Homo sapiens: one gene and its partners. The protein of the gene in region 4 purifies or fractionates together with the protein of the main gene of each other region. This does not show direct contact. Each region holds a gene or a part of one and is shown on either strand. Other genes may lie near its edges. The genes, in order: FBXO10, OBSL1, WDFY1 and FAM219A.

Region 1 (7,040 bases), 3.1 Mb from region 4:
GAGCAGAAAAGGAGCTGGTCTCTCGTGTCACTGGCCACACAGTCTAGGATTTTAAGTGGTTTTCACACGGGTAGAAAATCAAACTCAATATGCCCTCACAATAACCACGAAACAATCTTCAGAACTAAATACCCGAAATGTCCTCTTACACAAGTGAATAAACTAACTTGGTGGGTTCGCTGCTGTTGTTTTTGTTTGTTGTTGGATCCAAGTGTCTTTAGGGCAGACATCACTCTCTTTAACCTTATCAAACTCAAAGCCAACCACAGCATATGAGGGCTGAGGGCCCTGTGAGGTTTCCCTGTCTTTCTGGTCCTCCTCCTTATTAACGGGGAGATGACCAGAAAATGACTTGTCCAAAGTCACTGCTAATACACAGACAGAGACACAGAGTCACAAGGACACGCAGAGGACAGAGCAGGAGCCACCTGCAAACAGGAAGCACGTAAATACAAGAGGGCAACGTGTATTTAAATATCCTCACAAATGGTTTCTGAAAACCAAGAGTCACCCTGAATAGGGAACGAACACAAAGTACCAGTATGAGTGGGTTGGACTTTTTCCGGATGTCTACACCAGCCTCTGCATTGTGGTAAATGTTGTTGCCGGCAATCAAGCCACCGCCCTCCAAGCGAAGAAAGATGCCTGACGCTCGGCAGCGGTAAATGTCGTTCCTGAGCATGATGATCTAAGCAGAAAAGAGAAAGCCATTTATTTTCCTGTTACAAATATTTTTTTAGAAACCACTGGAGGAACACCTGAGTCTTTTCCGCACCACCTGATCCATGCAGTTTACCCCGTAGGCAAGAGAAACGCCTCAATGCTGGCACAGCCACGCTCCCACTGTGTGCTCCCAGGACACAGCCATCTCCAGGCCCTACCTGGCTTTGCCCTGCAGGCTCCTTAGCGGTCTCACATTGGTTCTTTTTTTTTTTTTTTTTTTTTTTTGAGACAGGGTCTTGCTCTGTTGCCCAGGCTGGAGTGCAGTGGCATGATCTCGGCTTACTGCAAGCTCCGCCTCCCAGGCTCACGTGATCCTCCCACCTCAGCCTCCCAAATAGCTGGGGCTACAGGCTAATTTTTGAATTTTTGTTTATTTTTATTTTTACTATGGATGTGGGCTGGAGTAATTTTGTTGTTAACTTTTCTATTTTTTGTAGAGATGGAATCTCACTATGTTGCCCAGGCTGGTCTGGAACTCTTGGGCTCAAGCAATCCTCCCACCTTGGCCTCCCAAACTGCTGGCATTACAGGCATGAACCACTACACCTGGCCCACACTGGTCCTTTAACTAAAACCTGGACCAAAGCTTGGCCCTGTGCTCTATATTCAGAACCTGCAAGCAGCATAGCTGGATGATGGGATAGAAAGGACGCTTAGGGGAAGATGGGACTGAGTGGTCTTCAAACTTTACATGCACTAAGTTTGCATGAAGATTTCCCCAGGGGTCGAGGGTGCAGCTACTTTTAATGAAATAAAGTTCCAGGTCCACCACTTCCAATGCACCTTCACTAAAATCCACCTGTCTGAGACGGCACGGACAGTAAGGTACCACACAGGTTCTCCTCTCCCACCTTCCCTTCCACTTTATAAAACAAAGGCCTGTTCTTGCACATCCTAAATCTTTCATGGTGTATCACCCTGGGGTGGAAAACTACTGAGACTCCAAATGAAGGGATGATTAGAGATATTGGTATAACAAAGCCTCCTTCAAACAAGTTCCCATAACCAGCAACCTGCTAATAAAGGGATATATTTCCAATTACATTTTCTTTTTATGTTTAATAAGTACAGTTGTCTCCCCCATGTCTGTGGGTTCTGCATCCATGGATTCAACCAACTGTGGATTGAATATACATTATTAAAAATAATAAATAATAAAATTGAAAAACAGGCCAGGTGTGGTGGCTCACGTCTGTAATCTCAGCACTTTGGGAGGCCGAGGTGGGCGGATCACTTGAGGTCAGGAGTTTGAGACCAGCCTGGCCAACACGGTGAAGCCTCGTTTCTACTAAAAATACAAAAACTAGCCAGGCATGGTGGCAGATGCCTGTAGTCCCAGCTACTCAGGAGGCTAAGGCAGGAGAATCTCTTGAATCAGGGAGGCAGAGGTTGCAGTGAGCCGAGATTGTGCCACTGTATTCCAGCCTGGGCGACAGAGTGAGACCTTATCTCAAAAATAAAATAAAATTGAATTAAAAAAAACAACAACAGTATAGGCTGGACGTGTTGGCTCATGCCTGTAATCCCAGCACTTTGGGAGGCTGAGGCGGGCGGATCACCTGAGGTCAGGAGTTTGAGACCAGCCTGGCCAACATGGTGAAACCCCATCTCTACTAAAAATACAACAAATTAGCTGGGCGTGGTGGCTCATGCCTGTAGTTTCAGCTACTTGGGAGGCTGGGGCAGGAGAATCGCTTGAACCCAGGAGGCAGAGGTTGCAGTGAGCTGAGATCACATCTTTGCACTCCAGCCTGGGCTAAACAGTGGAGACTCCGTCTCAAAAAAAAAAAAACAAAAAAAACACAACCAACAAACAAAAAAACCCAGTAGAAGAGCTATTTACATAGCATTTGCATCGTATTGGGTATTATAAGTAATCTAGAGATGACTGAAGTGTGGGAGGATGTGTGCAGGTTAGGTGCAAATACTATAACATTTTATATAAGGGATTTGAGCATCTGTGGATTTTAGTATCCTGGAACCAAGCCCCCACGGATACCAAAGCATGATAATATATAAAAAATCTGGAATGTTTATCTATGCTGTCTTAAACAATTATAGATTAATAATAAAATATATTATTATAAATTGTGTACTACTAATAATATATTGCATTAGGACAAAATTCTGTGAAGACTAAAGTAGAACAAGAGTATAAATGGTAAGGTTTCAGCTTCTGCTTAGGATGGAGAAAGTAGAAAGAATATACACAAACATGGACTTTCTGGTGGAACCCATCAGAGCTGAGGCTGCTGGACAACCGGCTAGCCTGAATGCTACAAAAAGACAGGTGCCTTTCGGAGCGTGCAGTGAGCCCAGATCGTGCCACTGCAGTCCGGCCTGGGTGAAAGAGTGAGACTCCGTCTCAAAAAAAGAAAGACAGGCGCCTCCAAGGAGACGAGGCCTGAGCACTTCCCTGCTGAATGCAGGGCTGCATGTGTCATACAAGCCAGTAAGAACTCAGCTAACATTTTCAATGCACTGTTAAAGACCAGCTGTGAATTAGTGTGAGTGCAGAAACTCTGGGAGTAGCTGCACCTGTTCACTTCTCTGTGGCCTTCACTAGGTGTTCATGGAGAAAACTGGGGGCAGATGAGAGACTGGAGACAGCACCCTCCTGACGCAGGCTGGGGACAAAAGTGAGAGAGGCATTAAGCCCCTCTCCTGTGTTCTTTCCCCCTAACTCTCTTACAAAACAAACCGTATGCACAGAGAAACAGCGGGAAAACACTCTTATCTCTGGGGGTGTTGGGAGGAAAGTGACTTAGGCCCAGATCATCAGAGGTCCCCTAGTGCTGGGGGTAGAGCCAGGGTCACTGAAAAAGTCCTGCTCTCAAGACCACAGACACAGCACCTACCTAGACTAAGGATGACCCAGGACAAGAGAGAAACCCTGCCATCACGTAGGGTGACAAATAATGGCAGTCTACTGCTGAGGGAGGGCGAGAGCAGCGGAGATCGCCTCTGAGCAGCAGGCACAAAGGAAGATCTGAAGCGGAGAAAACTAGCACGAGGTAATGCTGGAGAGAGCTGAAGCCTACGGGACGCTGAGGATAATCCTATCATCACCATAATTCAAACGGGCTCAGCTCCTAACTAGATCGACCTCCTAAGAGCCAGGCAAAAGAAGAGGTGTGCCCATTTCCAAACTAAATACTACAGAGCTCAGTCCCCACTGTCCTACATGAGATATCTGACTTCCAACTAAAATTTATGACACATAAAGAAGAAAATCACAGTCGGTGACACTTCTTTTTTTTTATTTTTTTTTTGGAGACGGAGTCTTGCTCTGTCACCCAGGCTGGAATGCAGTGGCGCAATCTTGGCTTTCACTTGCAACCTCCACCTCCCGGGTTCAAGCAATTCTCCTGCCTCAGCCTCCCGAGTAGCTGGGACTACAAGTGCCCGCTGCCATGCCTGGCTATTTTTTTTTTATTTTATTTTAGTAGAGACGGGGTTTCACCGTGTTGCCCAGGCTGGTCTCGAACTCCTGAGCTCAGGCAATCTGCCCGCCTCAGCCTCCCAAAGTGCTAGGATTACAGGCTTGAGCCACAGCACCCGGCTGACACTTTTCTTCTTGGAGCCTCAAGCAACCAGGCTCCTCCTGCCAGCCTTTACCCTCCTGGGATGTTCTAGAGGACAGAGCCAGGTGACAGCCTTCTGTGGGGGAGCAAGGATCAAGGCCTTGCTTGAAAGGGTGAAAGGGTGTGTCTCCCCTTACTTCTGGGCCTTCACACACACCTCCTTTGCCTCGCGTCTTCACCCTGCCGACTTAAGGGGCAGAGCCAGACTTTAACTAGAAAGCCATATTCTCAATAACTATGCAAGGAAGAATGCCCTCCTTGAGGGCTTGAGCCAGATCCTTTCATCGTGGTAGTCACGACAGCAAAGCTATTACCTTTCCCTTTTTATTTGGCCATTTTCTTTTATGTATGTGTACAGGAGTCTTGCATTATGCTTTCAAAGTAACATCACCTGAAATCCTCTTTGGAAGTGGGCTGGGTAAAACACAATTAAATTTAAATTAATTAAAATGTGATTGCTATTAACCATTTTAGAAGCCTGCAACACTCATGAGTGACCTTTGTACAATGTTCTTTAGTTTACTGAATACTTCCGGCATGGGACCTTCCAATAGCCAGTGAGAGAAGAAAAATAGGGATGCTTATTTTCATTTTACGAAAGTGAAGGTCATGTTCATAGTGAGTTAGTGGAGAGGTGAGACTCGAATCTAGGTGCTATGCCATGCTTTCTTCTGCATGGGCTGTCTTTCCCTTCAGAAGGCCTTCCTGTCATCAACCATTTACAGGATTTGCAGATTGTCCTGTGGTGCCCTAAGTCCCAGCACATAGAAGGTGTTGATTGTCGCAGTGGCTAGAAGGACTGTTCTTAGCATAAGGCCCAAATGTCTCAAGGGGGATTCCAGGTCTGGGTAAGGTAGCTTTTGCTCACCCCCAGCTTCATCCTTCAACCTAGCCCCACCGCATGGTTGAATTCAACCTCACACCCAGGCTCTGGCGTAGGATGTTTCTGCTGTTGGGACACCCTCACTCTCCACCCCTTCTTATCACGTGTCCAATTTTCCCTGGACCTTCTTCTCATTGTACCCAGCACAGACGTTTCCTCAACAACCCTACTCCAGTTTGGAGTGAAGGTAGTAATCATATCTCCCTGAATTTTCTCTTATCCAGGCTTTGTTTCTCCTACTCCGACATGGTGAGATATGTGAGCAGCAGCATGACATAGTGAAAAGAGGCAGGAGACCCGAGTTTCTAGTCTCAATTCTGCCTAACTTGCTATGTGACCCTGAGTAAGCCACGTTCTCTCTCTGGGCCTCTCTTTCTGGGAAATGAGAAAAAGCGTTTCTGTCCTTTCCAAATCAGATGATGGGCATGACGTCAAGCGTGCGTGAATAAGTTTAAAGAAAATTATTTTTAAAATGCAAAATAGCCCCATCAAACCCTTCCTACATATAGCCACAGGAGCCCCCTGACCAATCTAAAGTCATGACAGCACCTTGCTATTATGTATACACCGCACTGCGTAAGTCAGGTTCCGGAAGATGTTTCCTTCCATCTTGGCTCTGCCGTGGGAGCAGACGAAGACGCCTCCCTTCCCGTCCCGGAAGAGGCACTTGCGGATGAGGCAGCCCTGCACGGAGTTGGCCAGTGCCATGGCCTCCTTATCCTTCTGCAGCTCCTGCTGCAGTGAGTTCAGCACTAGGCAGCTGGGCAGCTGAATGGATGCTCCTGGTAGAGGTGGGCCCAGAAATGAGCCCCCCAATACAGGGCGTGGGCCCTGCACTTGGTAGGATAGTCTGTACATCAGCTGGTCCTCATCTTCATCCTCACCGCTGGGACTCAGGCCTCCATCGCTGCTGTCCGGGGTCTGGGCCACCCTTTCACCATCACTACCCACCTCTGCCTCCTGTGAGCCAGCCTTGGAGCCTGGCTTTGGGGAGCTAGAGGCTGGGCTGGTAGGGCTCTGGCTGCCCTCGATAACAATGTCACAGGTCTTTGGGCTCCAGGCCTGGTCCCGGCTCTCTAGGTCCAGGGACATTAAAAAGTCAGAGTCCTCTGTGGGGAGAAAAGTGGGTGAGGACTTGATAAGCCCTAGTAGATACTTGTAGGCCCAGTTCTTATCTGCAGATGGGTGACCCTCAACAGTCACAGAGTTGTTTTCACTGCCCACAAATTCACAGTTTTCCAGGACACACAGGGGCACGTTGTGCAGGAAGATATGGGTGTTTTTGAAGGTACAGAACTTCACTTGGCAAGTACCCGGGCCATGGACCTGGATGTGCCCGTTCTCAAAGTTGCAGTTGTCAAACTGGACGTGACCTGATGTTGTCTGGGGAATGAAAAGAAGAAAACGGCTGTAAGAGGGATGAGATTGGTTTTGGACTCTAGCTGCCCTTTAAGGAGGGTAGAACATGGAAAGGCCATTTGTTCTGCTGATCATCTTCCCCTCCCCACTGGGGTCTGGATGTCAGCTGTCCCCAAAAGGAACTGGGGAGCTGCTCTGCATCAGAGAGGGAGGGAAACTGGAGCTGCCCGCACCTCCATCCTTCTAATCTCAAAGGAAGGGAGACAAGTAGATGATGGCAGAAAAGTTCACACTGCAGCATGACTCCTCCTAAAACCTCAAGTCTCAATCACGTGCCAGGGCTAGGACAGGCAGTGAGAGAGGCCTAGCCGCATGTGCTGGCAAAGAGTTCTGACTGTGTGGCAACTGATGCACGTGGTGCACAGCAAAATATGTCTCTAAAGAGAGGGGACAAGGTATACTGCCATTGCCAGGAAGCATTGAACAGTGGT
Region 2 (7,040 bases), on a different chromosome or scaffold from region 4:
GATCCTGGAATGCGTCTGGCTTTCCTGCCAGGCTGTGCAGTCCTAGAGGGAAGCGGCCGTGTCTGCGTGCTGCTGGCTCCCGTGTGTGGAAGGGTGACTTTCTCCCAGGCCTCCCTGACCCTCCTGCTCTGTGCTCTTGAGCCCTCTGCCCTTGGCCCTCACAGTACTTATCACCAGGTGTCACTGTACATTTATTTGCATGTTTATTGGTTTAACACAGGGGTCGCAAACTCAAATGCCCACAGGGGCCAGGTTAGGTTAGCGGCTGAAGCAGTCTGGGGAGAGGCAAAAAGCAATGGCAGGGAGGTGGGACAGAGGAATGTGGGCCCCAAACTATGGGGGCAGCTGCTACTCAGTGCCAGCTGTTCGTCGCCATGGGGGGAAGCGGGACCAGAGCCGCCGGGTCTTCGGCTTTTTCAAGAGGACGCATAACTCCGGATTGTTATTTGAACTGTCCTGACTTTGGTAAGACTCTGCAGACCAAACAAAGCACATGTGTGGAATGCGCAGGGCCCCAGGACTACCCGTTTGCGACCCCTGGTTAACAGCTGCCTCCTCACCTAGCCTGGCAGCTCATTCAGAATAGGGACCGTATTTGCATTACTCACCTGCTACTCCCAGTGCCTGATTCAGGGAAAGTGCTCAGTAAATGAGCTGTGGAGCAGAGCTAGGCCTGGCCTTGGGCACCGGGGAGGGGCTTGTTTCCTTGAATAGGGGCCCTGGGCTCATCTCAGCAAGAACCCTGGCACATGCACCTGCAGCCCACACCTCCCTCCTCCCCGGGGTGCTAGCTGGGGCTATGTGGCCAGCTCCTCCAGGGCTCAGGGCTGTCTCTGTGACCCCGGGGAGCTGGGCTGGGCCCACACCTGTGACGGTGACAGTGAAGGAGGCCGACTCATCGTCAATTTCACACAAGTACTCGCCGGAGTCCTCGAGCTGGACAGCGGGCAGCACCAGGCGGCGGACAGTGTCTTCCTTCTGCAGGAGCAGCGCGGGGCTCTCCACCACCTCCTCTCCATCCTTGGTCCAGCGCACCTCTGCCCAGGGCCGGCATAGCTCACAGGTCAGCACCACACGCTCCAGGCGCACGGCTGCCACATACACCTTGCCGCTGGGATACACGATCCACGAGGAGACGTCTGGAGGACAGGGACAGCCACTGCCGGGCATGAGGGGTGTGCCCTGCCGTCCTCCCTGACCCCGTTGTGTTCCCTACCCCTGGAAAGTAGGCCATGTGTTGAAGAGGGACCTTCCTGAGACCAAATCTCACAGCAGCTGACAGTTACTCACAGCTAGAGACACACGAATACAGCTGTCACAAAAGCACAGCAGACTTTCTGCTGCGCAGGAGCTGCACAGAGGGGACCACGGGGTCAGCCTCGGCTGTAGAAACGCTCCACATTCTCTGGGTTGGGACAGGGACGGTATGAAGGGTGGAACTGATGAGAGGAGGGTTGGGGGGAGGAGCTGGGGGTCTCCTCCTCCAAGATGTTTTTGCCCCCCTAGTGCCTGAGACCACCAGCCCTAGACTCTGCCCTACCCTGCAATAGACTCACTGTCCCCAGAGATTTCCCTTGGTACAGGTTTTCAGGAGAATAGAGAAAGCCAGGCTTCCTTAGCCAAGACCAATGTGCTTATGATAACACGTTTCCTGAATGTGACTAGACCATAGCTTGAGGAGAAAGGGAGGAGGTCCGATCTGCCAGGGGGAGGGCAGTAGGGGCGGGGAACAGTGGCCTGGGAGTGAAGGTGTGGCAGCTGTTCCAGTGGGAGCAGGGGCACCTTCCCCTGTGCCTCCGAGGCCCACCTGGCCCCCCACCTGTGATGGTGACAGTGAAGTAGGCACACTCATCTCCAGCGACGCACTGAAACTCGCCCCCGTCTGAGGGCTGGGTGGCGGGCAGCACCAGGCGGCGATGGGGCCCCTCATTCTCCAGCACCACGAAGTCACTCTCCTCCACCTCCTGCCCGTCCTTGTACCAACGCACAGGGGCGTCCTCTCGGTCCACCTCACAGGCCAGCATGACACACTCGGAAGTTATGGCATGCACGAACACATGTTCTCGGGGGTCCACGATGTGCACGGGAGGATCTGGGTGGGAAGCAGAGATGGCATTGCACAGACACCCCCGCACAATGAGTCCAAACTAGCTGTGTGGCCAGGAGACACTGTTTCTGCACAAGAGGACACTGGAGGAGGGCTAAGGTCCTGCTGTGTAGGGACTCAGGGACAATGACAAGGAATGCTGAGGGCATGGCAGGTGAGGCATGGCAGGAGATCATGTGGCACCAGAGTGCTCTGTAGGTCCCCAAAGGATCAGAGGTGGCGGGGTGAGTACATAGAGAGAAGGAAGCACAGAGAGTTCACAGAGTGGCAGCCACCATTTGTCTAGGCTGAAGGGAGGTCACTGTCACAAGTCACATCAGGGCCATGCTTACTGCCTCTATTACGAGAAAGACCCCAGGGTGGGCAGGAGGTGAAGGATGATCCAACAAGTGGCAACAGTGAGACAGCCACTCTCCAGGTAGTGGGTTCCCTGTCACTGGGTGCATTCAGGCAGGGGCCACAGTGTGGAAAACAGGACTCCCACTCAGTGAGATGAGTGGGATCCATGGTTCCCAAGCTGCTCTCTCAGAGAGTCTGCACTTGTTAGGAAAGGATCTTCAGGCTCCACCCTGGATACTGGGGCTCTGGACAGTCCAGGGATTTATAACCAGCTTCCAGGAGCTTCCTAAAGCAGCCAGCCTACGGACTGCCTTGTGAGAACCACGGGGTGACTGCACTCGATGCTTCTGTTTGACTCTATCTGAGGCAGCAGGAACAGAACAATCCTGTGTGTGTCGCCAAGCTATGGTGTGACGGAGGTCACATAACCTCTTACAGCCTCCATTTCTTTGCCTGTGAACTGGAGATATATTGCCCCTCATCGAGTTGTGAAGATTAAATGAAAGAGTGTATATTGAAAATACTTAGCATAGTGCTTGGCTCAGAGTAAGTGTCCAAAAAGTGTTTGCTCCCATCTCTCCTCCCCTTAATTGCATTTTGTTCCCCCACCCAACCCAGCAGAGGCTATGTGGACAGCGAGACAGTGTTAGTGTATCAGGGGTTTAGGAGGCAAAGGCACGCTGTGCGTGGCACACACCTATAATCCCAGCTGCTCAGGAGGCTGAGGAAGGAGGATCGTTTGAGCACAGGAGTTCAAGGCCAGCCTGGGCAACAGTGAGACCCTCATCTTAAAAAAAGAAAGAAAGAAAGAAAGCCAGGCATGGTGGCTCATACCTATAATCCCAGCATTTTAGAAGGCTGAGGCGGGCAGATCATTTGAGGTCAGGGGTGACCTAACCAACATAGTGAAACCGTCTCTACCAAATAATAAAAAAATTAGCTGGGCGTGGTGGCGCGCACCTGTAGTCCCAGCTACTTGGGAGGCTGAGGTGAGAGAATCGCTTTAACCCAGGAGGCGGAGGTTGCAATGAGCTGAGATCACGCCACTGCCCTCCAGCCAGGGCAACAGAGTGAGAGCCTGTCTCCAAAAAAAACAAGAAACAAAAAAGCAAGTGCAGAGTTATCTGAAACATGTCCCCTGGGCCACTGGACTCTCCCTGTAAAGGACTCCCCCAAGTAGGCAGCAGACCAGAGGGCATGGCTTATGCGGCCCCACAATCAGCCTTGGCTGGAGGAGCCCAGGCTGGCATGCTTCCTGACCTTGGACAGTGACGCCGAAGAAGGCCGAGACCCCTTCTGTCCTGCACTCAAACTCGCCACTGTCCTGGACTTTGGCCTCAGGCAGGATCAGACGGTGTTTGCGCCCATCCATCTTCACCACCAGCAACTCGCTCTCCTCCACCTTCTGCCCATCCTTGTACCAGGTTGCCGGGAAGTCCACCCTTGAGAGCTCACAAGTCAGCACCACCCGCTCTGAGGTTGTGAAGGTCAACGACACCCTGTCCTGGGGGCTCAGGATGTGCACCGGGCTCTCTGTGTGGGGAGAAGTACAGATAAGCACCCCTCCCTCCGGTGCATGGGCTCAGTGTCGGATGCATCAGAGGGAACAACTGCTGTTGTTGGGGTTTTTAAAAATAGGCTTAGGCTTCCACACCAACCCTTAAGAGCAGTGCTTTGGCTGTGCATAAGAATTCCTAGGGAGCCTGCTAAAAATGCAGAATTCTTGGATTCCCAAGCACGCAGGGGCCAGGAAATCTGCATTATAAACCAGCCCTCCAGGTGGTTCTGATGTCAGTGAACTGGGATCCCATTTTGGAAATGCTGCTCTGGTTGCTGGTCAGGTCTCACCTGGCCCCTCTGCCTGCGATGCTGACAGTGAATCACCCCAAGACCCCGTGCATGGGTGCCGACAGATTCCTTGATTGGTCTTACAAACTCCAGCAATGGTGACATGGCAAATGCTAGCGTGATCCTTGAACTTTGAGCGCCCCACCTCCAGCTGTTCTCCTCAGGGATGCCTCATTCCCCTCCTTCCCCCTTTCAACAGGTGGCACAGTGTGATCAGGAGCCCGACTGCCTGGGTTCATAATTCAGCACCTGTGCTCATTAGCTCCGTACTTTGAGCAAGTCACTTAACGTATCTGCCTGTTTCCCCAGCTATAAAATGGGAATGTCAAAAGAACCTATCTTAAGTTTGAGATAAGCCTGGCCAACATGGCGAAGCCCCATCTCTACTAAAATACAAAAACAAGCCGGGCATGGTGATGCATGTCTGTAGTCCCAGCTACTCGGGAGGCTGAGGCAGGAGAATCTCTTGAACCCACAAGGTGGAGGTTGCAGTGAGCCGAGATCGCGCCATTGCACTCCAGCCTGGGCGACAGAGTGAGACTCTATCTCAAAAAAAAAAAAAGAACCTATCTTATAGGGCCATTGAGAAGATTGTGTTAATGTATGTAAGGTGATTAGGACTGCGCCTGGCACGTAGAAAGTTGCGATGACAATGTCAACAATTAGACAACATGGCAGGAGGCAGGCAGGGACTAGCAGCCAGGGTCTGTGTCTTTCAAATGAGATGACAAATCTGACAGGATTCTGTAAACCACAAAGCACTCCAGAGAATTGGGATATGATGCTGACATATATCAAGATAACAAGGGGTGCCCTGGATGTTGCATGTGGGTTGAAATTGGCCTTCCGGACCTCTGAGCCCTCAACCTCAGCCCATCATGGATGCTCCTTGCTCTCCTGGCCCAGATACAAGAAATAAAAACAGCATCTGCCTCGTTTTGCCAACAGGACTTCTGTGTCTTGACCCTTTCTGCCCACTCAGGTCCCCACTGGCACCAACCTTGGATTGTGAGGGCAGCTGAGTCCTGCACGCCGGGGCAGCTGAAGCCGACCAGGGCACCGCTGTCCTGGTGCTTGACGGCATGCAGGATGAGTCTGTGCTGCAGACCCTTCTGCTCTATACGGTACCGCAGGGCCCCAGGTTCCACCTGGCCCTCCGGCTCGTTACTCTTGAGCTCTTCCCCATTAAGGAACCAGGTACCCTGGATGATGGTGGAGAGATCGAGGGAGAAGACGGCATCTTCCCCGTCGTATACCTGCACATCCTCCAGACCTGCCACCAGGCGAGCTGTGGGCACTGAGGCAGGGACAGAGTGCAGCTGTCAGAACTAGAAGGTGTGGCAGAGGGCAGAGGCTGGCGGATGGCAAGCCTGTGAGAGGACCAGCACTGAGGGCTGGGGAAGGGAGGAGAAGTGATGGGTGGGTCTGGCAGGACCAACTCACCAAGGTGAGCAGAACCGTGGAACACCACGTGGGGACTACGGCCATGTCCGCTGACTGTGCAGATGCGGAAGCGGTAGTCACCCTCGGAGGGCACACAGTCGCCCGGCACCTCCACGGCTCCGGCTTTCTCGATGCTGAAGCACTGAATCCAGTCTTCAGAGCCCACTTCCTGCCGCTCCAGCCGGTAGATGAATGGGGTCTCGGGAGCTGGCTCGGGAGGCTTCCAGGTCAACAGGACCGTGTTCTTGTGGCCCTTGAACATCTCTGCCAATATGGGGGGTCCTGGGGGACTGTGCTTGACACCTGAGACCAAGGCAGGGATGTGTTCCGGCCTTGCTTGGGCCTCCACAGCCCTTCCACCTTAAATCTACTTCACCAACCCAGCTCCGGCATCTGGCCAACCTCCTGCCCTGCCTCGCCTGTCCAGAGGCCTTCCTGCCCTCACATTTTACTCTGAGAAGCGTAGTGGTACGGGAGTTGCCCAGGCTAAAGGTGACCTCGCCAGCATCCTCTCGGGTGACCCCTGGAAGGACCAGGGCATGCATGTGGCCTGAGCTGCTCTGGCAGATGACCGGCAGCTCCTCCCCATCACGGCTCCAGCGTCCCTCGACCCCGGCCTCTAGAGTTTCCACTAGCAGCACAGCATTCTCTCCTTCCAGGACGTCGAGCTTCCGGGGCAGGCGCTTCAGGATGGGCCCTGAGATGCGGACAGGAATCCATCAACCTGGAATCTGAGCACCTGCCTGCCTCCGCCTCAGCCTCTTCCCCACGGGCCAGCTGACCTTTGACTGTGACGTTGGCCACGGTGCGCACCCGGCCCCGCATCTCGCACAGGTAGATACCATCATCGTCTGCCTTCAGCCTGTGGATGATGAGGCGCCGGACAGTGCCCTCTTCGATCTGCTCGTACTTGCGGCAGGGCAGCAGCCGCTGGTCCTCACGGAACCAGGCCGTGGGGATGCGGGAGTTGGGTACTTTACATTCCAGCACGGCAATCCCGTGCTCACGGCCCTCCACGTCCTGCAGGGGCCGTGTGAACCGGAGGCGGGGCTCTGTGGAGAGGGGAGAGAGAGACAAGAGAGGGCTCTGGAGAAGGCCCAGACTAGGAGTAGGATACCTAGAAGCGCATTAGCTCATGCTGTGTGCTCTTCATGCAGAGCCAGCGGGCACTGTGGAATCACAGAAAACTACCAGAAGGGAAGTGGTGGTTCCTAAGATGACCTGAGTTCTCATCCAGCCCTGACACTAGCCACATCACCTTAAGCAAGTCCATTTCAATGCTTCTGGGCCTCAGTCTCCTTAC
Region 3 (7,701 bases), on a different chromosome or scaffold from region 4:
CAGTACACTGAAGTCTGGGTGACAGAGTAGTAACACTCTGTCTCAAGAAAAAAAAAAAAAAGGTAAACCAAGGCACAATAATATTTTAAAGGGCTTATTTGTGTAAACAGCAATTCATGAATCGGACAGCTCTAAACCGGAAGTGTTTCCAGGGCTCTGTTGGAGAAGCATAAGGGTCAAACTTGGAAGAGTGAATGCAGAAATAATGCAAAGAAAATAATTGATTACAGTTATAAAGTGGCTTTATTTGGTCTATCCTGTGGGAAAATCCCTAGTTATTTAATTGTAAGTCTGTTGACTGCTTCTGAATGGTTGAGCTTAAGTTTTGTTTTTCTTTAATACAGGCATTTACAAGAAATAGTTCAAGTTAAGTTTCACTTATGTTTGCAAATCAAGCAAGGTTAAGATCACTTAGGAGGACTGACTGGCTTTGTCTCTTCGGGGAGTCTTCAGCCCTGGTTTCCATTTTAATTTAGTTTAACAGGCGAATCCCTGATTAAAATTTTTGAACAAGTATTTGTAGAGGGCCTTTCTCTCACTTAGTTTTGACCATCCTGCTGCCTTAAGATCAAGCATAAACTTGGCTCCTGAACTCTACCACCACCCAGTGAGCATCTGCTGACCCTGCAGAGGGTGGCACAGCAGGTTCCATCACTGTGCATTTAACTCCCAGAGTAATGGCTGCAGTCCAGACCTCTCTACTATTCAGTAGCATATACAAAACTCCTATATTCAGGCTGGTCATGGTGGCTCACGCCTGTAATCCCAGCACCTTGGGAGGCTGAGGCAGGTGGATCACCTGAGGTCAGGAGTTCGAAACCAGCCTGGCCAACATGGCAAAACCCCGTCTCTACTAAAAATACAAAAATTAGTCAGGCATAGTGGCACACGCCTGTAATCCCGGCTGCTGGGGAGGCTGAGACAGGATAATTGCTTCAACCAAGGAGGTGGAGGTTGCAGTGAGCCAAGATCGCACCACTGCACTCCAGCCTGGGCAACAGAGCAAGACTCCATCTCAAAAAAAAAACAAAAAAAACAAAAACAAACAAACAAACAAACAAAAACCTCCTGTATTCAACTGCCTACTCAGCCCCTTCACTTGGAGACCTAATACTCGTCTCAAGCTTCCTATGTCCAAAACTGAATTCTCCTTCTTCCCTTCCAAACCTGCTCCTCCTACATTTTCCACAGATCAGTAACTGGCAGCTCCACTTTTCCAGTTGCTCAGCCCACAAATCTTGGTATCATTCTTAACTATCTCATATTCAATATTCAACAAATTTCACTGGTACTACCTTCTACATAAGTCTAGAATCTGATGTCCTCTCACCACCAGCACCCTTAGAAAGCCACATCATTTCTCAATTACCCTGTTAATTTCTCAAATAACTTCCTGACTGACACCTTGCTTCTATTCTTGCCTTTTAAAATTGAAGGCAGATTAGCCCAGGCGCAGTGGCTCATGCCTATAATAATCCCAGCACTTTGGGAGGCCAAAGTGGGTGGATCACCTGGGGTTGGGAGTTCGAAACCAGCTTGGCCAACATGGTGACACCCTCTCTACTAAAAGTACAAAAATTAGCTGGGTGTGGTGGCACGTGCCTGTAGTCCCAGCTACTTGAGAAGCTGAGGCACGAGAATCACTTGAACCCAGGAGGTGGAGGTTGCAGTGAGCCAGGATCGCACCACTGCACTCCAGCCTGGACGACAGAGTGAGACTTCGTCTCGAAAAATAAATGAATACAAATTTAAAAACTTGAAGGCAGATTAAACCAGCCTTCTGTTCGAAACTCTCCAATGGCTTCCTATCTCATTTGAAGTAAAAACCAAAGCCCTTATCAATGGTCTCTGGGCTCAACATGGTCTGTCTGGTGACCTGTCTGTGCTGTTTTTCTCTGAGCACTCCCTCACTCACTCTGCTCCAGCCTCACGGGGTGCCTGGCTGTCTCTACAAAACCCCTGGCATGTGCTCACCTCAATGCCTTAACACGTGCTCTTTTCTTTTCCAGAAAAGTATTTGGCCCACATTTCCACATGGCTTACTCCCTCCTCTCCTTCTTGGCTCAAAATGTAACTTTACAATGAGGCTTTTACTTGTCTCAGGTTGCATTCTCCAGCAGCAGATACGGTGATAGAGGTTGGCTCAGAGGGTGTTTATTAGGAATCAATGCCTGTGAAGGGAGGGGGAGGTACCAGGATTAGGCAGGAGAAGTCAGCTGCAGTACACGCCTTACAAAGCCTTGTCCAATCTAGGAGAGAGTTCTAGAGCAAGTGTTGCTCATCGGTCTGTCTTGATGGTCAGGCCTTTATCCTCCTATCTTGTTCAGTTACTGAATGTGGGCTTCCCTGTGAAGGGAACAACTGAGACCCAGTGGTTCTCAGCAGCTGGGGCAGTCCCTGAAGGAGCTGAAGGCTAGAGGCTCTCTGCTGACCACTGTTCTTCCCTGAAAGCAGATCTGTGCAGTGTATTCCTGAATCTATCACACCATCTATTTAAAATCGCAACATCCCCTAGAGTCCCTATCACCCTTCCCTGCTTTATTTTCTCCATAGCATTTAATAGCATTGAACATCTTCTAATATATTATATAATTTAGTTTACTATCTGTTTCCTTCACTGGGATGTAAGTTCTAACAGCAGAGGGATTTTTGTCTCTCTTGAGCACTGCTGCATTTAGAATGGCACCTGGCTCACAGCAGGCACTTGGGAGATGTTGGTTGATTAAACAAAGTTGTTCAGTAGCGTGTCTAGTCATTACACTGTACAGCCTCACAAAAACCATGTCTTATTAATCTCATCAGCAACAGCATATAGTAAGTGTGCGATATATGTCTGTTGAATATAGGAATAAATAAATTCATGAATGTTTGTTAATAACTTCATCATGAGAAAGTATTAGTACAATGGTGGCTCCTGCCCGTAATCCCAGCATTTTGGGAGGCTGAGGTGGGCAGATGATTTGAGGGCAGAAGTTTGAGACCAGCCTGGTCAACATGGTGAAACCCTGTCTCTAGTAAAAATACAAAATTAGCCAGGCATGGTGGTAGGTGCTTGTAATCCCAGCTACTCGGGAAGCTGAGACAGGTGAATCCCTTTAACCTGGGAGGCGGAGGTTGCCGTAAACCGAGATCGCACCACTGCACTCCAGCCTGGGTGACGGAGTGAGTTCGTCTCAAAAAACTAAAACAAAACAAAACAAAAACAAAAAGAAAGTTCTAGTAAATCACTGTACATAGAAGTACCATCTGATTCACATCCATAATTTAAAGTTTTTATTAGCTACCTTAAAAAAATAAGCAGGTCATATTAATTTTAATAGTATCTAACTCAATATATCCAAAATAGTATCATTTCAACATGTAATCATTGTAACAATTATTGATGAACTATATTACATCTTTTTTGTTTTGTGCTAAGTCTATAAAATCTTGTAGTATTTTGCACTTGTACTACATCTCAGTTTGGACAAGCCACATTTCAAGTGCTCTATAGTCATGTGGATAGTACGGTTCTAATGCAATTCTGCAATTCAGGTGTCAGAATAATATAGTGGGGCAGAAGTTTGGAGTCATTGACTTCCTGAGTCCAAATTTTGGCTCTTGAACTTACTGGTTGTCAATGACCTCTAGCCAAAAACCACCAGGAACAAATGGGGTTGATTGCTTGTTGGAGGGAGAAGACACACCATTGGGAATGGTGAGGTGTCTGGGTAAAGGGATGTTCGGACAGTTTTATTATAGGATTTGTGTTTGTGTTAGGTGACCTGGGAGAGCTTAAGGAAGAGAGGCTCTCCTGTGGACTGGATGTTGTCAGGAAATGCGTATAATTCTAAGGTTGCATATCTTAATAAATCTTATCTAAATGGAGGAAGACTAGATAGCGGTTAACATTATAATTAATAAAGAAATAAGAGTCACTCATATTAGCCAGGATAGGGGGATGTTTGGTAATTTCTGTGGCTTGTACATCGCTCATATTTTGGCCGTGTTTAGATGTGATTATGGAGTGGCCTCGTCTGATGTTTATGTTCCACAGGAAGCAAACACTTCCTAGCAACACCAAAGCTCAGCTGATAGTACCAGGCAGCTCCTGGAGATCAAGGGCTGCTTTTCTCCCTCTCATAGCTGTGCAACCTTAAGGTAGTGATCAAACTTCTCTGGTTGTTTTCTCATCTCTAAAATGGGAATACAAGAGCATCTATTTCATCTCTTAAAATTATCAGTATTAAATGAGATGCAAAGACACTGAGTTAATGCCTGGTATATGGTCACCACTCAGTGCTATCTATTGTAGTTCAAAGATTCTAAGATGCACTATATTTTTTCACATTTTAACATTTCTGAAAGTGTGTGCCTTTCAAACAATGGCTTCTTCAAATGGATGAAATGTAGTATTGTAATTTCTGAAATCTCTGGTTTGGGGGACAATTCCTTGTCCCCTCCAGGTGCTCAATTTATTCCTGGGTGAATGGCTTTACTTTTAAACCTTCCTTACTTTCCCCATTTCTCCGCAGGCGCCCCGTGGCATCCTCTCCCAGCCACAGACTTTCAGCTTGCGCGGCATCCCCAGGCAATACGGGCGGTGCGGCGGCAGCACTCGGGGGCTTACGGCGGCGCGGCGCCCAAGAGGCCCCAGCAGCCGAAGGGAAACCGGCGCGTCCCCCGCCCGCCCAGGCGTCAGCTGATGGGCTGCCTGCCGAGGAGGCCGCAGCAGTCGCCGCGCGAACATGGCGGCCGAAATCCACTCCAGGCCGCAGAGCAGCCGCCCGGTGCTGCTGAGCAAGATCGAGGGGCACCAGGACGCCGTCACGGCCGCGCTGCTCATCCCCAAGGAGGACGGCGTGATCACGGCCAGCGAGGACAGGTAGGGCCCGGGCGCAGCCGGGGCGGCCCGAACTCCGCGACGACGGGGTGTGGGGGCGGTGGGGTCCGCGGCCCCGGTCCTTCCTGCGTGAGGGGGCTCCCCCGGCAGCACGGCCCCACCCCCACTCTGCGCCCCTTAGCTCCGCCGGGTTCCCGGTTCCCTCCCGCCGGTCCTCCAGCCTCGACTTGCACCTTTCCAGCCTGGGACCCCGGTCTCGCCGCGCCCCTCCAGCCCGGATCCCCTGTCCCACCGCGCCCCTCCAGCCCGGGAACTCCGTCTCACCGCGCCGCCCAAGCCCGGGACCCTTGTTCCAACGTGTCTTTCCAGCCCAGGACCCCTGTTCCAGTGCGCCCTACCGCGCCCCTCCCAGCCCACCTCGCCCCTCCTGCTCAGGACCCCTGTTCCAATGCTCCCCAACGCGCCCCTCCAGTCCGGGACCCTTGTCCCACTGCGCCCGTCCATCCCGGGAGCTCCGTCCCACCGCGCCCCTCTAGCCCGGATCTTCTGTCCCACTGCGCCCCTCCAGCCCGGGAACTCTGTCCCACCGCGCCACTCAAGCCCGGGACCCCGGTTCCAGTGCGCCCCAACGCACCTCTCCAGCCCAGGACCTCTGTCTCACCGCGCCCCTCCAGCGCGGGAACTCTGTCTCACCGCGCTGCTCAAGCCGGGGACCCCTGTTCCAGTGCGCACCAACGCGCCCCTCCCAGCCCACCGCGCTCCTCCAACCAGGGAACCCCGACCTGCGGTGTCGCACTAGCCTGGGACCTTCGTCCCGGTCTCTCTCCCTGGCGGGGTTTAGCCTGGTACTCGGAAGGTGTTTCTTGGCCCTCCCGGGTCAGTTCCAAATCGTCTCCTCTGGAAGCGTGGAGGACCGGCGGCTGGTCACTGCGGACCCTGGTGCCCGGGGCTTGCTTCTTTGCGAGGAACTCCAGCCGCCTTCGCTCTCTTCCTCCCCCTGTACTCAGGGATTTCACGCCACGCCAGGCCTCTAGATCAGTTATTTTTGCCACGGCTGCTAGAATCACCTGAACTCTTATTTACTAAATAGGTTTTTGTGAAAGTGACTCATTTTTAAAAATATTTGGATGCATTTATTTTAAAAGGAAATCTTATTTATTAGGAAAACTAACATTACTCACCAGACAGAGTAAACTAATAACTAAAACATGTTAATTGGCATGCACACAGAGTCCTCTCTTGCACTGTGACATCTTGCATTGGACGCCCACCATGCTTTTGGGAAACACTGATTGGGTCCAGTTTTCTCATTTCTCCTAAGAGGAAGCCGAGGCTGGTGGAGGTGTAGCTTGCTGCTAAGTTACAGAGATACTGGTGAAGCCGGAAATGCAATCCAGAACTCCCACCAGCTCTGGGCCTGAGTGATTGGATTGGAACAGTATTTATGATTCGACTTTAAACTTTAGCGTCTTTCAAATCCTAAAGGTTTACAATGTCAGTAGCTTTCCGGTGGGAATTTGAAGGAAATGACTGATGTTTATTGAATGAAACTGTGTTTCCTTGATGCAATGAGCCGTCTTAAATAGGGATAGTCCACAAGTCCAAAAGCTTTCTGGAGGATGGAAGGTACTGCTATTCTCTTAAAGCTGAAGGCGTGGTCTCTAGCCTTTTGTAATTATACCTTTTGAAGTGACATTGACCCTATCCTGAATGGGAAGAAAAAGCCTGAAGCCCCCAACTCCTGTTGGTCCTTTGGATTTTGCTTTTGAGTGAGCTTGTGCCTTTTTCCTCAATTAGATAATGAGCTGATTGTGAGCAGGCAGTGGCCTCTCCCTGCTGGTTCACCTGTAGCTGACTTCCAACAAGGAGGGGAGTGATTGGCAGGACCTGGCTGTGGGTCTGTAAAGCAGAAAGGAGTGAGAGAGATCGAGTGCATGAGACCTGGGGAGAAGGTGGGGACCTGAAAAAGGCAAGGACAGAATAATGACTTTTTTTTTTTTTTTTTAAGATGGAGGCTTGCTCTGTCACCCAGGCTGGATGGAGTGCAGTGGCATCATCTTGGCTCACTGCAACCTCCGCCTCCCAGGTTCAAGCGATTCTCCTGCCTCAACCTCCTGAGTAGCTGGGACTATAGGCGCCTGCCACCACGCCCAGCTAATTTTTCTATTTTTAGTAGAGACAGGGTTTCACCATGTTGGTCAGGATGGTCTCGATCTCCTGACCTCGTGATCCACCCGCCTTGGCCTCCCGAAGTGTTGGGATTACAAGCATGATCCACTGGTGTCCGGCCAGAATAATGACTCTTGCATGATGTGAACGTAGATGCAGACAACACTCTTTAAAAGTTAGCCTTTGGGCCGGGCGCGGTGGCTCACGCCTGTAATCCCAGCACTTTGGGAGGCCGAGGCGGGTGGATCATGAGGTCAGGAGATCGAGACCATCCTGGCTAACAAGGTGAAACCCCGTCTCTACTAAAAATACAAAAAATTAGCCGGGCGCGGTGGCGGGCGCCTGTAGTCCCAGCTACTGGGGAGGCTGAGGCAGGAGAATGGCGTGAACCCGGGAAGCGGAGCTTGCAGTGAGCCGAGATTGCGCCACTGCAGTCCGCAGTCCGGCCTGGGCGACAGAGCGAGACTCCGTCTCAAAAAAAAAAAAAAAAAAAGTTAGCCTTTGGCCAGGCGCAGTGGCTCATGCCTGTAATCCCAGCACTTTGGGAGGCCGAGGCGGGTGGATAACAAGGTCAGGAGGTCGAGACCATCCTGGCTAACACGGCGAAACCCAGTCTCTACTAAAAATTCAAAAATTAGCCAGGTGTGGTGGCAGGCGCCTGTAGTCCCAGCTACTCGGGAAGCTGAGGCAGGAGAATGGCGTGAACCTGG
Region 4 (7,644 bases):
CTGGGCTCAAGCAATCCTCCTGCCTCGGCCTCCTGAGTAGCTGGTACTACAGGCATGCAGCACCATGCTGAGCTAATTTTAAATATTTTTGTAGAGATGGAGTCTCACTGTGTTTCCCAGGCTGGACTATCTTAATTCTTTATGCCCCAAAATGAAGACTCCTGAAGAAACATCACACAAGATTCTGCTGGTCTCAACAATACACAGGGTATTTAAAGGGTTTTGAGGTGCCTCTGGAATACAACCTGGGGACAGAGGTCAGGAAGCGGGGCAATGTCTATGACCCTCAAATGAGGGATGACTATATTGCTATTTCCATAAGGCTCTCACTCAAACTCAATAAAGTATTCTCAGGCCGGGCATAGCAGCTCACTCTTGTAATCCTAGCATTTTGGGAGGCCGAGGCAGGCAGACCACTTGAGGTCAGGCATTCAAGACCAGCCTGGCCAACATGGCGAAACCCTGTCTCTACTAAAAATACAAAAATTAGCCATGCGTGGTGGCAGGGGCCTATAATCCCAGCTACTTGGGAGGCTGAGGTAGGAGAATCGCTTGAATCCAGGAGGTGGAGGTTGCATTGGGCCAAGATCGTGCCACTGCACTCTAGCCTGGGTGACAGAGAGGGACCCTGTCTCAAAAAAAAAGAAAAAAAAGTATTCTCTTGCACAAGGGTGACTTTAGCAGTTAAAGGGGTCTGAAGGCAGTCAGAGCTTTTCTAAGTGCCTCCTTGCCACAGATGCTTCTCCAACTCCAGGGCCACACAGACCGGAAGCAGCTCAAGAGTTCTCTACCCAGCCAAACCACTATTCAGAATTTCAGGCAATAACAGAAGCACCAAGGACAACTGAGAGCCTGGTGGCTCTATTTCTTCTCCCCTTTCCTTGAACAGCTATTTCCTTCCTTTTTGAGAACCCCAGATGGGTGACAAGAAACAACTCATTGCTTCCTTTTCCTGACACACTTGAACCTCCTCTTCCTTCATCCACCCTCTATTTTGATTCTTGATTAGATGCTTAGAACTGGAAGGGCAATCTCGTTTGACAAGCCAGGTTAGCTAGAAAGAGAACTCAGAAAGGAAAATTATCTTCAGCCAGCCCAAAGTCCTTCTTTAAGTTCATGGGATGGACTTCTCTCCAGGATTTTCTGGCTCCCAAATAATCCAATGATGGCATGAGGCTAGGAAAAAGTCCTGCAACACCTCTCTCCGGTTTAATATTGTATGCTTCTGTAAAACTTCTTTGTTTTGGCTCTTAGAACTGTCTAAGCAGTCATGAAAGGGGGAAAAAGCCTTTGTCTCCTGCTAAGTGGCCACTAATGATTCTCTCTACCATCCCTCAAAAGGTGTGACAAAAAGGTGGTGATGGGTCCCTGCCGAGGCCCATCTTGGCTGCTGTAATGGGTAGGTTACTCGCCCAGGAAGCTACAAAGCACATCTGTCAGCCAGGGGGTTATAGGCCCAAGGGTAGACCTGTTTCTGGCCACCCTGCCTAACACAGAAGCAGAACTTCAGAACTTGGAGAACTCAGCTCTGCTCCAGCCAGCACAGCTCAGAGAAATGGGGCATCCACACTTTCGGATTTGTAGCCCACCTTGCCTCCTTCCAATTCCAGCTCAGGCTCCAGGGGGATAAAGCGAACACAGCCTAGACATTCCCTCTCTTCCCCCCTCACTATACGAGCTGGCTAGGCCTCCACGTCTCCCACCCGGTTGCCTGACAGACAAGCGAGGTCAGGGAGCCCCCTGGGCGGTGGCCAGCAAGCATGGTCTCCCTTAGGCCTAGCCTCGGTGCACCCGAGTTGCCCTCCCCCTTCCATTCCCTCCGCGCCAGCAGCGATGACATCATTCCTCCCTGACTCCGGGACCGCGGACAGGCGGCAGGATCCGCGCCCAGCAAGGACTTCAGGCACGTAGGCCTAAGATGATGGGGGCTCTTCCCAACCAGTGCGCACAGGCAGCTCCAGCGCGACCCCACTTCCTCTCCCGTCGGTTCCCGAGCACTCTCATCTGCACCCCGATTCCCCATCTGGTCGCCGCGCACTCTCCTTCCCGGTTTAGATGCCCCCAGCCTGGTCTGCCTGCGCTCCCCACCGGAGAACGGAATTCCCAGGTTCTGCACCAACCACCTTCCCCCACTGGGTCCCTCGCCCCGGCCCAGCGTTCCTGTCCGTATATCCAGCGGACAGGCGGGCAAGCCCCTCCTCTTCTAAAAGCTGATTCCCAATCTCTCTTAGCCTGACGGCTCCCCCGCCCTAAGCATCACAGGCCTCTAGGACTAAACGCCTCCCCACCTCCCATCCCAGACCCCTGGGCCTGCCGCCGGCGGTGCCCCATGGCAGTTCCCTCGCCAGTCCCTGCTATGGGCCTCCACTAGCGGTGTGCACCTTTGTGCCCCCTCCGTTCCATCCGACGGTGCCCTGCTTCCACCGACGGTGCCCTCCGCCCTTACAGGTCCCTTTGCTCTCATCCAGCATATTCTCCCACGGTTTTCTTGTCCTGCAAGTCCCCGTCCCCCGGCAATACGTTTTCAGGGATCTCTTTGCCCCATCCGATGGCGCCCCTCCGCACGATCCCCCCGGCCTGATTCCCTCCCTCCCCCTCAAGCGACGCCCCCTCCGGCCTTGGCCTGCCCGCCGCCCGCCCCCTCACCAGCGGCTGCATCTCCGAGTGCGCGGTGGGCACCTGGAACCGGTCGATCTCCTCCATCATGGTGCCGGCGGGCGAGCGGGCCAGGGGCCGGGCGCGGCCGCGGACGCCGACAGGACCGCGCGGGGCGGCGGCCCCAGGAGCCCGGCGGGTGGTGCAGACTAGGCCTCCCCGGACCACTCGGGCGGGCAGGGGCCGGGCGGATGCAGGGGTGGGCGGGGGCGAGAGGTTCGCAGACTGGCTGAGGCCGGCGTGACTCCGTGGGCTTGCCTAGCACTACCGCGGCTGTGGCCGGGCCGAGCCGCAGGTCTTGCCTCGCCTCCTACTCCGCTGCCGCCTCCTGTCAGCAGCTCAGCCACTGCGGTGACTCGGCAACTCCACTTCCGGGTCCGGGACACCGCCCGGATCTTGCATTATTCATGAGGAGGCGGTGCCTGGGGACCCCAGCCCCACCCACATGCGGGAGTTCCGAATGCGCGCGGCCGCCCAGCTGTGATTCCTGAGGGGGCGGGGCTTAGTGGAGACTCGCTCGCCGCGCGCCCAACCCCGCCTCCTTTCCGGGCCGGCTGGGCGCGCCGAAGCGCCTGCGCCTTGGCTGCTGGTCGGTTGCTGGGTAACCGCGTCAGGGAGTTGGATTCTATCCTGCAAGGGCACGGGGACCCACAACGACGGCTGTCCCTAAAGAACCGTTGCGACTGGTAACTGAAGTGGAAGAGAGTCCAGATTTCTTGTGTGTGGTCAAGGAGACGGACAAACTTTTTGTCTTCAGACGAGGGAGCGTTTTGTAGGCTCTCCAGGGGTTGAGATGATTCCTGCTTCTGCGAAGGCTCCCCATAAACAGCCTCATAAGCAGGTAACGTACGCACACCTTCCTTCTGATGACCTCTGACCTTCGTCGTCGCCAGTGACCACTAATCATACCTCTCCTACTGATCCTTGATCTTTTCTCTGTTGACCCCAGCCTTCTCACCCCCGTGACCTCTGGTAAGTGCTCCCACTGACCTCTGACTCTGTCCTACTCTTTCCCACTAATCCCGGCCTCCTCTCCCATACTACCCCAATCCACCGTTTCTTACCTCTCTCCTTTTATCCACCATTCCCATCTCTTCACTTCACTTTACCCCATGGACTCATTCTGACCAGTCTATTCTCCTTAACTTCCCCATCCCCATTCCCACGAGTCCCTTCCTCCTTGTTCTCACATTCTTGTCCCAAAGGAATTTTTCTTTTTCTTTTTCTTTCTTTCTTTCTTTTTTTTTTTTTGAGACAGAGGCTCGCCCTGTAGCCCAGGCTAGAATGCAGTGGCGCCATCTCAGCTCTCTGTAACCTCTGCCTCCTGGGTGCAAGCGATTCTCCCACTTCAGCCTGACGAATAGCTGGAACCAAAGGCATAGGCCACCACGCCCGGCTAAATTTTGTGTTTTTGGTAGAGACGGGGTTTCCCCATGTTGCCCAGGCCCGTCTCTAACTCCTGAGCTCAAGCGATCCTCCTACCTTGACCTTCCGAAGTGCTGGGATTACAGGCGTGAGCCACGGCGCCCAGCCTCAAAGGCATTCTTTATCCAACCCTTTGCTGTGTGCCTAGCTCCAGGCTAGGTGGGAACACAGCTCTTGCTGTTTGGGAGCCCACAGAGGGTGTGCAAGAGAACTAAACAGAATACAGGACAGGCTATGTGCAGGAGTGTGATTTTATTTTCTGTGCTGGGAGATTTATGAGGAGAGAAAGGGCAGGCAAAGAGGAAGAGGAGAGAGGCCCTTTTCTCATCCCTGTCCTCACCCCCACAGTGCACAACCCAAACACTCTGCCCCAACTATTTCTAGAGCCTCATATCTCTCTCTTCCCTGCGAGCCCCTGGTCCACTCCTATGATTCATTCAGCTATGTGAACATTATGCTCTTATTACCACCTGGACAGATGTCATCCCTTCTCACAGGAAACCCGAGTCATCCCCCACTTAACCCACTGAGCACAGAGTTCTGCTTTCTTCCTCAGCATCACCACGGAAGGCAAGGCAGTCCCAGTTTCCCAAGGAGTCTTCTGTGGTGAAGCAACTCAGTCCTTCAGGAACTTTTTCCAAACCCTTTATGAATTACCACTCAGGCTAATGTGTAGTTTCTAGCTCTGGAAAGCAGGACTTCTATATATTTATTCCAGATTTACCCCACTCAAGTCTAGGTACATTGAGGTTTAGAGAGCCAATCTCCATGCTACTTATGACTTTGCATATTTTGGTCTGGCCACCTCCATGTTAGCCTTTGCTCCTCTGCCTCTTTTACCTGGGCTTCTGTAGCAGATGGACCTGACTTTCTTAGGTCTCTGCAGCCTTGGGGAAGCTGCTAGTCCCATATGAACATGCCCTAATTTTATGTTGGGGTTGGGCTTTACGTTGAAGTTCATGTACTGTGTTTGAGCCTCCTGACCCTATATTTACAGGCAGTTTGCTTTTATTTATTTTTTATTTTTGTATTTTTTATTTTTGAGACGGAGTTTCACTCTTGTCACCCAGGGTGGAGTGCAGTGGCGCAATCTAGGTTCACTGCAACCTCCACCTCCCCGATTCAAGGGACCTGCCTCAGCCTCCCAAGTAGCTGGGATTACAGGCATGCACCACCATGCCTGGCTAATTTTTTTTTATTATTTTATTTTATTTTATTTTTGAGACGGAGTCTTGCTCTGTCGCCCAGGCTGGAGTGCAGTGGTGTGATCTTGGCTCACTGCAAGCTCCGCCTCCTGGGTTCACGTCATTCTCCTGCCTCAGCCTCCCAAGGAGCTGGGACTATAGGCGCCTGCCACCACGCCCAGCTAATTTTTTTGTATTTTTGGTAGAGACAGGGTTTCACTGTGTTAGCCACGATGGTCTTGGATCTCCTGACCTCGTGATCTGCCCGCCTCGGCCTCCCAAAGTGCTGGGATTACAGGTGTGGGCCACCGCACCCAGCCAATTTTTGTATTTTTAGTAGAGACGGGGTTTCACCATATTGGTCAGGCTGGTCTCGGACTCCTGACCTCAGGTGATCCACAGGCCTAGGCCTCCCAAAGTGCTGGGATTACAGGGGTGAGCCCCCGTGCCCCAGCAGTTTGCTTTTAAAATAAACATTATTGAGGTTTGGTTTACATATAATAGAATGTACCATTTTAGTTGTACGTGTTGACAAATTTTAACAAATTTACACACGTATAAACCACTACCACACTCAAGATATAGGATACTTTCTCTATCCCAAGAAGTTCCCTGTGCCTCATCCCACCTCCTATGCCCCACCCCTGGCCTGCCTAGGTAACCACAGATCTGCTTTCTGTCATTACAGATTCAATTTGTCTTTTCTAGCAACTTGCAGTTTGAACAAGCTTGGGGATGGGTTTCTCTAGCCCATTAGGGAGACATTAGAGACTAGTTACACTGAGAGCAGGGAGAGGTGACAGCAGACAGAAAGCAGAAAAAACTGGGTCAACTGGCCCCGTACACATCAGCACTGCCCCATGGAGGGAAGGGTTGTTTTAGTTCAGAGTAAATATTGGCGTGTGGGGTGTGAGAAAAGGTTAGGTTGTGCTAGGTTGTATTTACCATTTTCTTGCCTCAGTGAAGACCAATTTGAGTCAGTGCTAATCAGGTGTGGGATGTCCTAGAGATGTTTGAGAAGTTGTCCCTGTCCTCTGGGAATTCAGTTCAATGGGGGAGACAGAACACAGGCAGAAAAAGATAAAGGAGGATGGGATCCCTGGGGATGAAGGGGAGAGAAGCCTGCAGGTTAGAGCAGCAGAAAGGCTTCAGGGAGGAGGTAGGTAGGACTGGGTTGCCAGGGGTGAGGGAAGATCAGGGTTGGGTTTGTTAGAGGATAGAGAGGAGTTTAAATTCCATTTGTTCATATCACTCCACTAGTCGCCTTTTAATGGTTCCTTGTTGCTTTCAGGATAAAGTCCCAAAAGTCCAATTTGCTTGGTATGGCCTTTGCCACCCTGCATGGTCTTGCCTTTGCTACCCATCCTACTTCAAACCTCACCATTTCTCTATGAAAATTCCACAATCCCAGCAAACTGAACTGCCCTCACTTCCTGGAAAGTGATATTCACACTGTTTATCTCCTCTAAGCTTTTGAAATCTTTTCTGTCTGTGTCTACTAGTCTACTCCACCCTACCCCAAATCTTTCCTTCATATCCTATTCATATTTCGGGTCTAAGCTTGGCCCTCATATTCTTCTACAAAGGATTAAGTCCCCTTTCTGGAGGCAGGATAGGGTGATATCCCCTCTAGACTATAAACTATGTTATGGTAAGGATCATGTCTGTCTTGTTCATTGTTGATTCCCCTCTACCTAGCACAATACCTGGAATATATTAAATTCTAAGAAAATGAGTTCAATATGAATTCTGAATGCCCTAAGTTGTTCTTGGAAATTATCATCTGAATGTGTTCGAAGGATGGGAAGGGGTGAAGCTGGGATGGGGAGACTTGTGGGGAATTATAACAAGGAAATGTAACTGTGTAAGTATGGTTTTCCAGGTACATGTTTGTATCTGCTTTGGCAGTAGGGCTATGAATGATTCAAATTTGAACCACAAGTATCCATGCCTTAAGAAATGGGTTTTGGAGACTAAGAGATAAAAATATTGATGTGTAAATATTCATGCAGTAATTATTTATCGTACCCACTCTGTGTTAGGTACTGTTCTAGGTATTGGTGATATAGCAAGAAACAAAACAAACAAAAATCCCTGCTCTCATGGAGCTTATTTTTTAGTTGGAGGTAAAGTGGCAATAAATAAATTTGTAAAATATATAGTATATTAGATGGTGATAGATGCCAAGAAGAAAACTAAATCAGAGAAGTAGACTAAGAAGTTCAGGGAATCACAAGATTATCATTTAAATAGGATGGACAGGGAAGGTGTTACAGAGGTGGCATATGAGCAAAGACCTGAAGGAAATGAAAGAGCTATGCAATACCCGGGGGTAGGGTGTGGGGTGAAGGGATGGGGATAGGGGAGGCATTCCAGACAG

The links.
Region 1: the proteins of FAM219A (region 4) and FBXO10 purify together in Homo sapiens (affinity purification with mass spectrometry; 3 studies listed by BioGRID and IntAct, with this or other methods). This does not show direct contact.
Region 2: the proteins of FAM219A (region 4) and OBSL1 purify together in Homo sapiens (affinity purification with mass spectrometry; 4 studies listed by BioGRID and IntAct, with this or other methods). This does not show direct contact.
Region 3: the proteins of FAM219A (region 4) and WDFY1 purify together in Homo sapiens (affinity purification with mass spectrometry; 3 studies listed by BioGRID and IntAct, with this or other methods). This does not show direct contact.

Annotation. Positions count from the first base shown.
Region 1 is NC_000009.12:37,531,371-37,538,410, forward strand, and holds part of FBXO10 (F-box only protein 10), read right to left. Parts: intron 6,574-7,040; coding exon 5,740-6,573; intron 689-5,739; coding exon 539-688; intron 1-538. UniProt on the Homo sapiens protein: Substrate-recognition component of the SCF (SKP1-CUL1-F-box protein)-type E3 ubiquitin ligase complex. Mediates the ubiquitination and degradation of BCL2, an antiapoptotic protein, thereby playing a role in apoptosis by controlling the stability of BCL2.
Region 2 is NC_000002.12:219,561,536-219,568,575, forward strand, and holds part of OBSL1 (obscurin-like protein 1 isoform 1 precursor), read right to left. Parts: intron 6,790-7,040; coding exon 6,520-6,789; intron 6,435-6,519; coding exon 6,183-6,434; intron 6,041-6,182; coding exon 5,738-6,040; intron 5,592-5,737; coding exon 5,295-5,591; intron 3,980-5,294; coding exon 3,707-3,979; intron 2,093-3,706; coding exon 1,820-2,092; intron 1,140-1,819; coding exon 867-1,139; intron 474-866; coding exon of another isoform or gene 349-473; exon of another isoform or gene 187-348; intron 1-186. UniProt on the Homo sapiens protein: Core component of the 3M complex, a complex required to regulate microtubule dynamics and genome integrity. It is unclear how the 3M complex regulates microtubules, it could act by controlling the level of a microtubule stabilizer.
Region 3 is NC_000002.12:223,942,311-223,950,011, reverse strand, and holds the start of WDFY1 (WD repeat and FYVE domain-containing protein 1), read left to right. Parts: upstream 1-4,676; 5' UTR 4,677-4,727; coding exon 4,728-4,864; intron 4,865-5,456; exon of another isoform or gene 5,457-5,533; intron 5,534-5,604; exon of another isoform or gene 5,605-6,788; intron 6,789-7,701. UniProt on the Homo sapiens protein: Positively regulates TLR3- and TLR4-mediated signaling pathways by bridging the interaction between TLR3 or TLR4 and TICAM1.
Region 4 is NC_000009.12:34,455,558-34,463,201, forward strand, and holds the start of FAM219A (protein FAM219A), read right to left. Parts: upstream 3,014-7,644; 5' UTR 2,707-3,013; coding exon 2,647-2,706; intron 1-2,646. Other genes in the region: DNAI1 (dynein axonemal intermediate chain 1), read left to right, coding at 3,449-3,496.